Linked DNA regions of Homo sapiens. The protein of the gene in region 1 purifies or fractionates together with the protein of each later gene. This does not show direct contact. Each region holds a gene or a part of one and is shown on either strand. Other genes may lie near its edges.

Evidence for each region. Proteins that work in one complex are often made in the same cells at the same time.
Region 2: the proteins of OSBPL8 (region 1) and GLG1 purify together in Homo sapiens (co-immunoprecipitation; 3 studies listed by BioGRID and IntAct, with this or other methods). This does not show direct contact.

The regions. Positions count from the first base shown.
Region 1 is NC_000012.12:76,549,757-76,556,793, forward strand, and holds part of OSBPL8 (oxysterol-binding protein-related protein 8), read right to left. Parts: intron 1-7,037. UniProt on the Homo sapiens protein: Lipid transporter involved in lipid countertransport between the endoplasmic reticulum and the plasma membrane: specifically exchanges phosphatidylserine with phosphatidylinositol 4-phosphate (PI4P), delivering phosphatidylserine to the plasma membrane in exchange for PI4P, which is degraded by the SAC1/SACM1L phosphatase in the endoplasmic reticulum.
Region 2 is NC_000016.10:74,597,082-74,604,118, forward strand, and holds part of GLG1 (Golgi apparatus protein 1 isoform 3 precursor), read right to left. Parts: intron 1-7,037. UniProt on the Homo sapiens protein: Binds fibroblast growth factor and E-selectin (cell-adhesion lectin on endothelial cells mediating the binding of neutrophils).

The sequences.
Region 1 (7,037 bases):
AATTATTTCTAACTAACAATATTGTACCCAGCCAAATTATCAATCATTTGTGAGAATAGAATGGAGACTTTTTTACACAGAATTCGGAAAGTTTGCCTCTCATACATACTTCTTTTTCAAAGAGTTATTTGAAGATGTACTCCAATAAACAGATCAAGCAGATGCAAAAAAAAAAAAGGAAAAAAAAATATGTATAACAGAATGGATCCAATTCAAGAGTAAGGAGAAAGGAAGTTACAAGAAAAGACCTAGAAGAGTCCAAATGGAGGCAGAGTTACAGACAAATACAGATAAATAGAGAATGCAGCACAAAAGGCAGTATGCTGAAGAGTTGGGGTGTGGGGGGGCTGGGGTGTAGGGGAGGCTATAATAGAGGCATATAGTACAAGAAAAGAGGGCAATTTAAGACACTAAGAAAAACAGGAAGTCCTATTCAAAAACTTTTTTAATTCCAAAGTTAGATTTTGGTCATATCCAAATTTTTTTTTAATTTGATGGTCAGAATTGATAAAATAAATAAAGTCTACTAATTCTCTATATTATCAACATGTTTCTTCTGGCAGCCCAGGGACAGAAAAGGAATAATCATCTAAGCACATTATCTGGCTTAGCATTAAATAATACTTACACAGTCATGGTATCAACACTATTTATTGGTTTTCATAATTTAGAGACAACCTGTGGACATGACAGCTGAGATTACAGGGGAAAAAACGTGTATTTGTTTAGGCCAGGGGTGTCCAATCATTTGGCTTCCCTGGACCACACTGGAAGAGAAGAATTGTCTTGGGCCACCCATAAAATACACTAACACTAACAATAGCTGATGAGCTTTAAAAAACAAAAAAATCTCCTTATGTTTTAAGAAAGTTTATGAATTTGTGTTGGGCCGCATTCAAAACTGTCCTGGGCCGTGCGCAGCTCACCAGCCAGGGATTGGACAAGCTTAGTCTAGCCAATAAAAAGTACAGCTACTGGTTTAGAAGAAATAATCACAAGGTAATAAATGGAAAATTCAAGTAATTTCTAAAGCTGATAAAGAGAAAGGTGAATCAACATTAAGGCTGGGTACCAGGGTTCATGCCTGTAATCCCAACATTTTGGGAGGCAGGAGTTCAAATTCAGCCTATGCAAAATAGCGAAACCCTGTCTGTACAAAAAAAATAAAGTAGCCAGCCACAGTGGCACAAACCTGTAGTCCTAGCTACTGGGGAAGGTGAGGCAGGAGGATCCTTTGAGCTCAGGAATTCTGCACTCCAGCCTGGAGTGCAGGAGACAGGAGGAGACTCTGTCACTCAAAAAATAATACAAACATATATATAGTATATCAAGGAAGAGAGGAAAACACACACACACACACTAGAAACTAGGATGTTTTATAAAAACAACATAGCTTCCTTTATTGGATATACAGAAATGAACTGCTCCCCATGAACCTTACCCAACCCCTAAAAGGGGAAAAAGTTCTTTAATTAAGGATAATAGTTTCTTTCCATTTAAAATCATTTCTTTCAGATTCACTCATTCACTCAATCTTTAAAGCAGTAGTTCTCTACTGAGAGTGACCTTGTCCCCAGGGAACATCTGGCAATATCTTGAAACATTTTTCATTGTCACAATTAAGAAAGATGGTACTAGCATCTAGTGAGTAGAGGCCAGGGATGGTGCTATACATTCTACAATGCACAGGAACACACAACAAAGAATTATCCAGCCCAAAATATCAACAGAGTCAAGTTAAGAAACCCTACTTTAAGAAAACTCTTCAGACTTGTATAGATTTTCTCTGTTCCTCATTCTTATCATGGTGACTGGGCGTAAGATAAAGCTTTCATGGGCATCTGGAGTATTATGATTAGCCTGAATACAGACCCATGGATTGCCCTGGGGATCCTCACAGGCCTCTAAGGTTTGAATATTGGCCCTCACAGAGTCACAATGGCACATGCTGATGAATATGTTGGAACAGTATCCAGAGGATCTCCTAACTTGGCCCCACCCACCTCAGCTCCTGCTGGTACGGATATTATTACAGTCTCGACTACCTCGTCTATCCAGTCCCTGGCTTATACTTAAGGCAACACTAGCTGCTTAACAAATAAACCCCAGATTTTCGGTAGCTTCACACAATTAAAATTTCTCATTAATATTACAATCCATTGTGGGTATTCCTATTTGGTACACAAATTTCTTTCACATGGTAAATTTAGGGACTGTAGAACATTCCAATCTTATGGTTTTACTATCCCTTAAGAGCCTAAACCTCTGCATCTGGCCCTTGAATTAGAAAAGAGAAGGTGAAGAAAGAATACCTATTTTTTCTGCCACTTCAACCCAGAAGTGACAACAAATTGATTTCTATTCACATTCACTAGTGAAAAACTAGTGGCAGGCACAGTGGCTCACACCTGTAATGCCAGCACTTTGGGAGGCTGAGGCGGGCAGATCGCTTGAACTCAGCAGTTAGAGACCAGCCTGGGCAACATGGTGAAACCCCATCTCTACCAAAAATACAAAAAATTTGCCAGGCACGGTGGCACATCCCTGTAGTACCAGCTACTCGGAAGGCTAAGGCACAAGAATCACTTGAGCCCAGGAGGCGAAGGTTGCAGTGAGCCAAGATCCTGCCACTGCACTCTGGCCTGAGCAACAGAGCGATACCCCATGTCTCCAAAAAAAAAAAAAAAAAAAAAAAAAAAATGTTGCAAGCAAGAGGGAGCACAAATTTTTGTGGGCAATGAAATGAATCTGCCCTTCCCACAACCTCTGTCTACTACATGGTCCCTCCCTCACAATAGCAGCCTAATGACAGGCTTCCTGGCTCTCACTCTACTAACTTCTATTTCCTTCACTAGTCATATGTGAGAACATCCAGATCTCTTTCAGACCATGTAAGAACCATGGAAAACTCACAGAGTGCTATCTCTGGCCCCCTCTCTGCTTAAATATGCCATTTTCTTCCCTTTTGGCCACCCCAAGTCAGCATAGGGCCAGTGCAATAGGCTAGTAAGTGGCTGTACCAGTTCTGAACTTTGGCAGTCTGGCTCCAGGGTTCGTGCTATTCTGCCTCTCCAGATTTCTAAAATAGGTGATAAGACAGAGCACTTCCATTACTACCAATGGATATTTGTAAAGCACCTACATCTTGCAAAACAGCCTAGAACTATTACAAACTCCACACTATGATGCACAGCACTGCTTTTCTTTACTTCCAAATTGCTGATCTTACAAGTTATTATAATCATAACAATGCACAAAATTACACACTAAGCAAAGCTAGTCTCCAGAAGTCCCTCATCCTACTCTCCACTTGAACAATGTACCTGTGCCCTCACATCCAAAGCACCCCACCTCATTACTCTACCCGGTAATAATGTTACTTAGATTGAACTTCTCTCTCTCCAGATCTACCATACTTCCATCCCATCAAAATATACCAACATAGATTCCATAATTTCCACATGGGCCCCAGCCTTCCTTGTAAAAAATTATGTAATCTGACAAACTATTCCTGCTAATATGTAGGCATTTGGCAGCCAAAAAGCAAAAATTACCTTACTGGTGGTCATCTCAACAGGACAGATTTCAACTGTACAGATCTGTGTCCCTCAAATATCACTAAATAGGCCTGGCATGGCAGCTCACATCTATAATCCCAGCACTTTGGGAGACCAAGGTGGGAGAATCATTTGAGGCTAGGGGTTCAAGACCAAGCTGGGCAACATAGTGAGACTCTGTTTCTAAAAAAAAAAAAAAAAACTTAAAAATTAGCCAGGTGTGATGGTATTCGCCTGTAGTCCCAGCTACTTGGGAGGCAGAGACAGGAGGATCACTTGAGCCTGGGAGGTCGAGGCTGCAGTGAGCCATGGTAGTGAGTGCCACTGCACTCCAGCCTAGGTGACAGCTCAAGACCCTGTATCAGAAGAAAAAAAAAAAAGGCCAGAGGAGGTAGCTCACGCCTGTAATCTCAACACTTTGGGAGGACGAGGCAGGTGGATCACTTTACGTCAGGAGTTCGAGAACAGCCTGGCCAATATGGTGAAACCCCATCTCTACTAAAAATACAAAAAATTAGCTGGGCATGGTGGCATGCACCCGTAATCCCAGCTACTCAGGAGGCTCAGGCATGAGAATCACTTGAAACCGGGAGGCAGAGGTTGCAGTGAGCCAAGATCACACTACTGCACTCCAGCCTAGGTGACACAGTGAGACTCTATCTCAAAAAAAAAAAAAAAAAAACACTAAAAAAAAATGCATACCAATTCTGTGAATCAGCCTTATTCTTTAAAACTATTTTTTAATTATAACAACTTAGCTTTAAATACTGTTATCTATTATGTTCTTTAATTTCCAGTTACTCCGAAATTCTCTGAAATTCCCCAGTGAGAAAATGGCAACTGGATGAACAATAAAATAAATATTTGCTTTACTCTAAGTATTTTTAAGATTTAAAAATAGGATGTCAGTCAAATACAAGTAAAATGAGAGAAAAAAAATCAAGGCTATATTCCATCTTCTTATAAAGTAAAGTGCATTTTGTAAATGACACAACTAAAACAGACTCAGGAAGATCACAAGGTCAAGACGTATCAAGAGGAGCAACTGCAAATAAATTATACAAGGCAGTATATAATATGATGGTTAAAAGGATAGGCTCCAAAGTCAAAGGTCAGGTTAAACCTCAAGTTTAAATCCTTTTAGTAGGCTCTACCACCTACTACTTAACTTCTCTGTGCCTCAGGTTTAGTTCAAATCCTGGCTCCACCACTTATTTAATCTGTCAGTTGCTCAGGTTTAAAAAAAAGAAAATAGCCTGATTGCGGGGTGGTTGTCAGGATCAAATGTGATGACATGTCAAGTACTTCTAGAGTAGTACAGTACCTGGTATATAGCAGTTGACGCACATTAGCTATTAATATGACCTATAACAATTTCCCTCTGAATCTATCAAGTTTTCAAAAACTCTAAATCAAAAAGCTTCTCCTTTTTATTTGAAAAAAGTCAAGCTCTGAAACCATTTCCTCTTTTTTTCAGTCCTTTTTGAATATGGAAATTAGTAGGTAACTGGCTTATCATTTGATGACTCTTCTTAGTCTTTGTATAATAAAAAGGCTCAAGACTCTTCTTAGTCTTTTTATAATAAAATTCTCTTCCAAATATTATACAAAGGACAGACTGCTCCATGGATCAAAAACACTACAAAGAGTTCACAAAGTATAATGAAATTCTGAGATTCATAAATGAACAGCTACTGGCACAAAAAGCTTAGATAAGAAATAATGCAGATGTCTGTTTGTTTGCTCAAGAAATACTGAATTTTATAATAAAACACAGATGGTAGAGATCTTCATGGCTTATAGTCACATCACTAAAAACAGAAAATATTTTTGGTAAATTTTTTCTTAACAACCAGAAAACCCCTTATTTCATCACAACAATGAATAGATAAATGACATTACAGGCAAAGACAATTTCTTCAAAAACAAATTACGTAGAGAAAAAAAGCTTAAAGGCTCAGATTTTCAGCTACACATATCCCTTACTTTGAGCTTCAAAAATTTGAGGCTTCTAGCACTCCTTGTGGTCTGTAACATTAAGCAGTAATACAATTAGGCCTCATTTCTACCAGAAAACATTAAACTGACTGAAAGAAAATTATCTAGAATTTTGATTCTGATCAATTTAAACATAATGCCATGAGTCATCTAGATGAGTCAAGCAAATATTAGAGTTCATGATAAACGAATCAAAATATGTTTTAAAGATCTGCAGACAAACGTTTTAATAATTTTGTATTTGCTGAAGTCCTCCTATGTGTGACACATTGAGGTAGGCACATTCATATTGAGGTATGCACTTTCACATGCATTATATAACTTTGTTCTCCCAACGATCATGGATTATTATCCTGATTTTACAAATGAGAAAACTAAGACCAAGTGATTGGCCGATGGAAACGACGCTTGTATAAGATTCAGTCAGAACACCAATTCAAATTTTCTGACCCTTATCGTACTTCCAAAACTCAAGTACTGTCAATCTCTGCTGTTGCAAAGCAAGTTAATCTTTTTATTTAGGGAGAGGTGAAAATAGAGATGGGAGAATAAAAATTCTTCATAATGTTACAAAAAAAGACTTACTGTGCTTTATCTGACATAATTTATTCAGTCTGACTTAAATGCTTTGCTGCACGTTGTCTACCCCCTTAGACACTGCTTATCTTCAGACACACAGCCCACACCAAAACCTAACTCAAGAATCACCTCCTCCAAGAAAGTTTCCCAGATTAAATGACCTGTTCCCCTTCTCCCAAGCTAACATCCTTCCTTTATCATTTCGCTGCTTGCATTTAGTTTGGACTACATTATCAGATACTCCTTTTGTTCTCCAGTCATATATCTGGAAGTAGACTTTTTTCATTCATTAACTATTGAACATTTGGAGATTCAATGGTGAGCAAAACAGACAAGGTCCTTGCTATCATGGAGAATTTACATTATCTGGATCTTCGACAAAGGTAAAAATAACAGGGTATAAGAATATGATGCTCTAGGACTAGGATTTCTTCCCTATAAGGTCTCCGAAAATAGCTCTCTCCCTTGCAAGCTTGATAACACTTTTCAGGAAGAAAAATTCCTTCTATCACGCCTTCCACATGAGAATTTTATGACTTTGTGAGGATATGTGAGGGATGGGGACCAAGGTGGGAAGAAAGATCTAAAATCTCTCAGGGGTTTCCCACATACTGCCATGAAATATGCACACAACATGAGTCTAGACATCTCTTCCTGTGTCTCATCACAAGGAAGCTATACTTTGGCCACAACTGCTCCAGTCAAGCACTTCTACTAATCTCCTTGTACCCAGCCACCTTCACTAAAAATTGTATATTTCTCAGAGGCTTTTTGTTTTTTTGGTGTTTTTTGAGACTGAGTCTTGCTCTATCGCCCAGGCTGGAGTGCAATGGCATGATCTTGGCTCGTTGCAATCTCTGTCTCCTGGGTTCATGCGATTCTCCTGCCTCAGCCTCCCAAGTA
Region 2 (7,037 bases), on another chromosome or scaffold:
GCACTGCAGCCTGGGCAAGAGAGTGAGACCTCGTCTCAAACAAACAAAAAAAAAACCCAAAACAAAACTCACCAGGCACAGTGGCTCACGCCTGTAATCCCAGCACTTTGGGAGGCCGAGGCGGGAGGATCACCAGGTCAAGAGATCAAGACCAGCATGTCCAACATGGCGAAACCCCGTCTCTAGTAAAAATACAAAAATTACCTGGGCGTGGTGGGGTGCGCCTATAGTCCCAGCTACTCAGGAGGCTGAGGCAGGAGAATCGCTTGAACCAGGGAGGCTGAGGTTGCAGTGAGCTGACATCATGCCACTGCCCTCCAGCCTGGATGACAGAGTGAGACTCCATCTCAAAAAAAAAAAAAAAGAAAGAAAAAAGAAAAAAAAAGCTCCGGTGATAGATGGTGGTGCAAGCAGATCACCTGAGGTCAGGAGTTCAAGACCAGCATAGCCAACATGGCGAAATCCTGCCTCTACTAAAAAAACAAAAATTAGCCGGGCGCAGTGGCTCACGCCTGTAATCCCAACACTTTGGGAGGCCGAAGCTGGCGGATAACGAGGTCAGGAGATTGAGACCATCCTGACTAACACAGTGAAATCCCATCTCTACTAAAAAATACAAAAAATTAGCCGGGCATGGTGGCGGGCGCCTGTAGTCCCAGCTACTCGGGAGGCTGAAGCAGGAGAATGGCGTGAACCCGGGAGGTGGAGCTTGCAGTGAGCTGAGATCGCACCACTGCACTCCAGCCTGGGTGACAAAGTGAGACTGCCTCAAAAAAAAAAAAAAAAAAGCTGGACATGGTGGTGTGTACCTGTAGTCCTAGCTACTCATGAGGCTGAGGCAGGAGAATCGCTTGAACCCGGGAGCCAGAGATTACAGTGAGCTGAGATCACACCACTGCACTCCAGCCTGGGCGTCAAGAGCAAGACTCTGTCTCGAAAACAAAATCAAACAAACAAAATCAATAAGAATGATAATAATAAAACATCTCTCATAAGATTAAATGAGATAACGCCTAGAAAGCATCCAGTCCCTCAGAACAGGGCACACAGAAAACCCTCAGTAAATGCTAACCATTATAAGTAGCAGTAGTATACTTGAACACTGAGCAGTGTCTTGCACACAGGTTTCAATAAATGTTTGCTGAAAGAAGAAAAATTGGTCGGGCGCGGTGGCTCACGCCTGTAATCCCAGCACTTTGGGAGGCCAAGGCGGGCGGATCACGAGGTCAAGAGATCAAGACCATCCTGGCCAACATGGTGAAACCCCGTCTCTACTAAAAATACAAAAAATTAGCCGGGCGTGGTGGCGGGCGCCTGTAGTCCCAGCTACTCGGGAGGCTGAGGAAGGAGAATCACTTGAACCCAGGAGGTGGAGGTTGCAGTGAGCCGAGATCGCGCCACTGCACTCTAGCTTGGTGACAGAATGAGACTCCATCTCAAAAAAAAAAAGAAAAAAGAAAGAAGAAAAATTAATTTACATGATAGCCTATAAGCCATTTTAACTGCTGCTTTTAAAAATATATAAATAAGGCCGGGCGCGGTGGCTCACGTCTGTAATCCCAACACTTTGGGAGACTGAGGTGGGTGGATTGCCTGAGGTCAGGAGTTTGAGACCACCCTGGTCAACATGGTGAAACCTCGTCTCTACAAAAATTAGCCGGGTGTGCTGGCAAGTGCCTATAATCCCAGCTACTCGGGAGGCTGAGGCAGGAGAATGGCTTGAACCCGAGAGGTGGAGGTTGCAGTGAGTCGAGATCATTCCACTTCACTCCAGCCTGAGCAAGAGCGAAACTCCACCTCAAAACAACAACAACAAATATATAAATATATATATATATAACTTATATAAAGAGGAGATTTTTGTTATTGTTCCTGAGTAAATTTGTTTTGAACACATTAGGAGAAATGCACAAAAGAGAAATACAGCATTTCATCTTTTGGACTGTTCAAGTATTTTATTTCCTTCTACAGAACAATGAATTATTAAGCAACTATATACTGTAAAGCATTCTCATCAAGAGATTTCTTAAAAAGTATTTGCCATAAACGACAATGCTACTTTACAGGTAATTCTCAATTATCTGCTGTAATATTTTTATCTGAGGTAGGGATAAAAACATCCCATTTCTGGACTTTACTTGGAGAACCAGCTAGAGGTGAATATACGACCCTTCATGACCTGGACTGAAAACATTTTCAAGTTCTCTATTTCGGTCAATACAGCCCCTTTAATAATTCCCCAAAGCATCTCCCCTTTCCACCTGTGCTACGACTCTCTTGCACACGTTTTGTATTCCCACAGATCACAAAATCACAAAGCACCGGAGCTGGAAGAATCTTAAGAGATAATCCAAGGCCAGGAGCGGTGGCTCACGCCTGTAATCCCACCACTTTGGGAGGCCAAGGCGGGTGGGATTACCTGAGGTCAGGAGTTCAAGACCAGCCTGGCCAACATGGTGAAAACCCGTCTCTACTAAAAATACAAAAATTAGCCAAGCCTCGGCCGGACACAGTGGCTCACGCCTGTCATCTCAGCACTTTCGGAGGCCGAGGTGGGCAGATCACGAGGTCAGGAGATCGAGACCATCCTGGCCAACATGGTGAAACCCCGTCTCTACTAAAAATGCAAAAAATTAGCCGGGCATGGTGGTGGGCGCCTGTAGTCCCAGCTACTCGGGAGGCTGAGGCAGGAGAATGGCGTGAACCCGGGAGGTAGAGCTTGCAGTGAGCCGAGATCGCGCCACTGCACTCCAGCCTGGGTGACAGAGCTAGACTCTGTCTCAAAAAAAAAACAAAAAAAAAATTAGCCAGGCATGGTGGCTGGTGCCTGTAATCCCTGCTACTAGAGAGGTGGAGCCAGGAGAATCGCTTGAATACAGGAGACAAAGGTTGCAGTGAGGTGAGATCGCGCCACTGCACTCCAGCCTGGGTGACAGTGCGAGACTCCGTCTTAACCAAAAGCAAAACAAAACAAAAAAACAACAGAGAAAGATAATCCAGTGTTAGTGCTTTCTGAAGCATGTGCTATTGGTAATATGCAAGATGATTTCAGGTGGTATGTGTTGGTACTTATATTTTATAGTCATATATTTAGTTTCATATATATTAGAGAAGTATACCTACCACATCAAATTCATGAGTTCACGTATATTTCCGCTTAGAACAAGGCTAAGTGGTGTTGTGTACCTATAGTCCCAGCTACTCGGGAGGCTGAAGTGGGAGGAGAGCTTGAGCCCAGGAGTTTGAGGTTGCAGTGAGCCATGATCATGCCACTGCACTCCAGCCAGCCTGGGAGATAGAGTAAGACTTTCAAAGAAAAAAAAGAACAAGGACAAAGCTAAAGTAGACAGTCCTTGCTTAAGAAAAGAGGCCGGGTGCACTGGTTTACACCTGTAATCCTAGCACTTTGGGAGGCCAAGACAGGCAGATCACTTGAGGTCAGAGGTTCAAGACCAGCCTGGCCAGTGTGGCGAAACCCCCGTTTTACTAAAAATACAAAAATTAGCCGGGTGTGGTAGCGCATGTCTGCAGTCCCAGCTACTCGGGAGGCTGAGGCAGAAAAATCACTTGAACCCAGGAGGCAGAGGTTGCAGTGAGCCAAGAATACGCCATTGCACTCCAATCTGGGCGACTGAGAAAGATTCCACCTCAAAAAAAAAAAAAAAAAAAAAAACAAAAAAAAACAGTGACAGAAATTTCAAGCTAAGAATAGCAGAGCTGTGTTCCACCCAAATCTAAATCCTAATTTTGTCTTATTACACTGCCCTAAAATAATTTACTATCTGTATGACATCAAGTGATTAACACTCTTATATAATCGCTTCTCGATCACAACAATCTCACTTATCAAACCAACTGTAAGCAATGGTGGTGTCTTAAAGTACTAGTGTCCTTCCACAATGATAGGTGTATAATAGAAGATCAATAATGACTTGATTATGTGGTTAGATTGCTTCCAACCAGACAGACAGCATAGGAGGAAATTCCATATTGGCTCAAACAAAACAATCATAATATATCCTAAAGCCAAACAATGTTTGGATTAATTGCTGTTTGAATTATTCATTGTCACTGATTCCCTCCATGAATGAATATGGAATCAGGAACTGGTACATATATAATCCTAGAAACTTTACAATATATACATACCCAGAGAATATATACAGGAAACGACTCATATAAGTTAGACAGCAGAGATCTTAGAAACCGTACTGTAGGGGCAGGGTGTGGTGGCTCCGCCTGTAACCTCAGCATCCGGGAGGCAGAGGAGGGTGGGTCGGTTGAGCTCAGGAGTTAGAGACCAACCTGGGCAACCCGGCAAGACCTTGTCTCTCTTAAAATTAAAAAAAAAAAAAAGTATACCCCAACTACTCATTTAACACATCAGGAAGCAGAGAGAGAAAATGCTTACAGTCATTTGTTAGTTAATGGCACTGACAGCTCTAGTCTCAGTTCACTTTTTGTGATGTTCCATGGATTCAATATAAATATCAAGGAAATACAACTAAATGCTTCCAGTGTTCTAGTACAAATCCTGCTTAAGGTGAGTTGGGATTTGAAACTCTTTTCATAAAGCAGAAATTCGGTTTATGATGCACTCAGACTAATTAAATTAGCGTTGGGTGATAACGCATTTGCCTGAGAAATCTACAAATACTTCAATGCACTGTTACAACTCAGTTGTTCTTGTGTCCCATTTAGCATACATTTATAAACCTATGGCATTCTCAACAGTCACAGACTAATGTCCTTAGCTACAACCACCCATGGTACATTAGAAAGAGTATGGTCTTTTAAGTCAAAAAGGACTTCCTGAACACCAGCTCTACCACTTAGGATATAACATCAGACAACTTACTTTAGCTCTTTGAGCCTATTTCTCTGCTAAAAGAATAACACTAGCACTAGCACTAGCACCTCATTATCATTATCATTGATAATGATAGTCATTATCAACAGTGAGACAATAGAGATGGTGTAGTCCACTATCTCAAGTATACAGTTAAGTGAAAGGTTAAAAGCAGAGTATAAAAATATTTACCTATGAGTCTAAAAGGGGGTTTATGGTTTGCAACACTGAAATGTTAATTCCTGTTCAATACCTAAATTAGTTTATTTAAATATTTACAAAGCATTCACTCTGTGCAAAGCTTAGAGCATGGCTACAAATTTATAATCTGAGACTGATATATCAAGAAAAGGTGGCAAGAAAGAATTTTTTTATGTTTTTCTTTTTAGTGTCAGAATTACTTGCAAAAGAAAGATTATACATTTAAATACAAAAACAAACAAAAAAAACCTTCTAGTTTTTAAAAAGTATTTATCACAGACATGCTTGAAGTATTTGAAATGACAGTATCTGGGATTTGCTTTTAAATATGCCAGCCTCCCAACCCTGTGCCCTAAAAATAAAAGGGCGGGGCTGGGCGCGGTGACTCACGCCTGTAATCCCAGCACTTTGGGAGGCCGAGGCGGGCAGATCACGAGGTCAGGAGTTCGAGACTAGCCTGGCCAATATAGTGAAACCCTGTCTCTACTAAAAAATACAAAAATTAGCCGGGTGTGGTGGCGGATGCCTGTAGTCCCAGCTACTTGGGAGGCTGAAGCAGGAAAATCGCTTGAACTCGGGAGGCTGAGGTTGCAGTGAGCCAAGATCGTGCCCCTGCACTCCAGCCTGGGTGACAGAGTGAGACTCTGTCTCTCAAAAAAAAAAAAGGGTGGGAACAGTTGAAGCTGGGTGATGTATACCCAGGGACTCATTACCCTATTCTCTCTACTTCTGTGTAAGAAAATCTATGGGGCACGCACAATGGCTCATGCCTGTAATCCAGCAGTTTGGGAGGCCGACGCAGGCAGATCACCTAAGGTGAGGAGTTCAAGACCAGCCTGGCCAAGGTGATGAAGAGGCTGAGACAGGAGAATCACTTGAACCCAGAAGGCAGAGGTTGCAGTGAGCCAAGATTGTGCCACTGCACTCCAGCCTGAGCAACAGGGCAAGACTTCGTCTCAAACAACAACAACAACAACAACAGCAGCAGCAGCAGCAGCAGCCAGGCGCAATAGCTCATGACTGTAATCCCAGCACTTTGGGAGACCAAGGTGGGCAGATCATGAGGTCAGGAGATCAAGACTATCCTGGCCAACATGGTGAAACTCTGTCTCTACTAAAAATACAAAAATTAGCTGGGCGAGGTGGTGCGTGCCTGTAATCCCAGCTACTTGGGACGCTGAGGCAGAAGAACTGCTTGAACCAGGGAGTCAGAGGTTGCAGTGAGCCGAGATCACACCACTGCACTCCAGCCTGGCAACAGAATAAGACTCCGTCTCAAAAAAAAAAAAAAAAGAAAATCTAATCTATGAACATCACAAACTTTTTATTAGAGACGGTGTCTCACTATGTTGCCAGGCTGGTACTGAACTCCTAGCTCAAGCAATCCTCCTGCCTCAGCCTCCCAAAGGGCTAGGATTTCAAGTGTGAGCCACTGCGCCCGGCTGAACACCACAAACTTCTAAGGAACCAAGGTCTCCATCTGAAACTTCGAAATACAAGACACTAGTGGAAAAAAAAAAAGTGCTACTGGCCATTTCAACCAAGAATAAGTAAAGTATTTTAAAATGACTGACAACATCAAGCATGCCTTCCTTATCACATACTAAGCAACAGTATCTTCTCTTTCTTTGGTATTATTACTCCACCTACTAGAACAGCCCAGGGAATATTTTTTCTTTTCTGCCTTACACTTTCTAATTTTTTGTTTTTATTTAAATAACTTGAACTACTAATAATTATACACACACAACTAGGACTACTAACACACCATTACTGGCTATTACATCTATTATTTCATAGTGGACCCATGATATACTTGGCCTTTTTAAAAGCATGACTCATCCGAGAGCGTTAAAAAAAAAAAAAAAGAATCCCAAGGCCAGGCACAGTGGCTCACAACTCTAATCCCAGCACTTTGGAAAGCCCAGCTGGGAAGATCACTTGAACCCGGAATGTGGAGGCTTCAGTGAACTCTCAAACCCAGAAG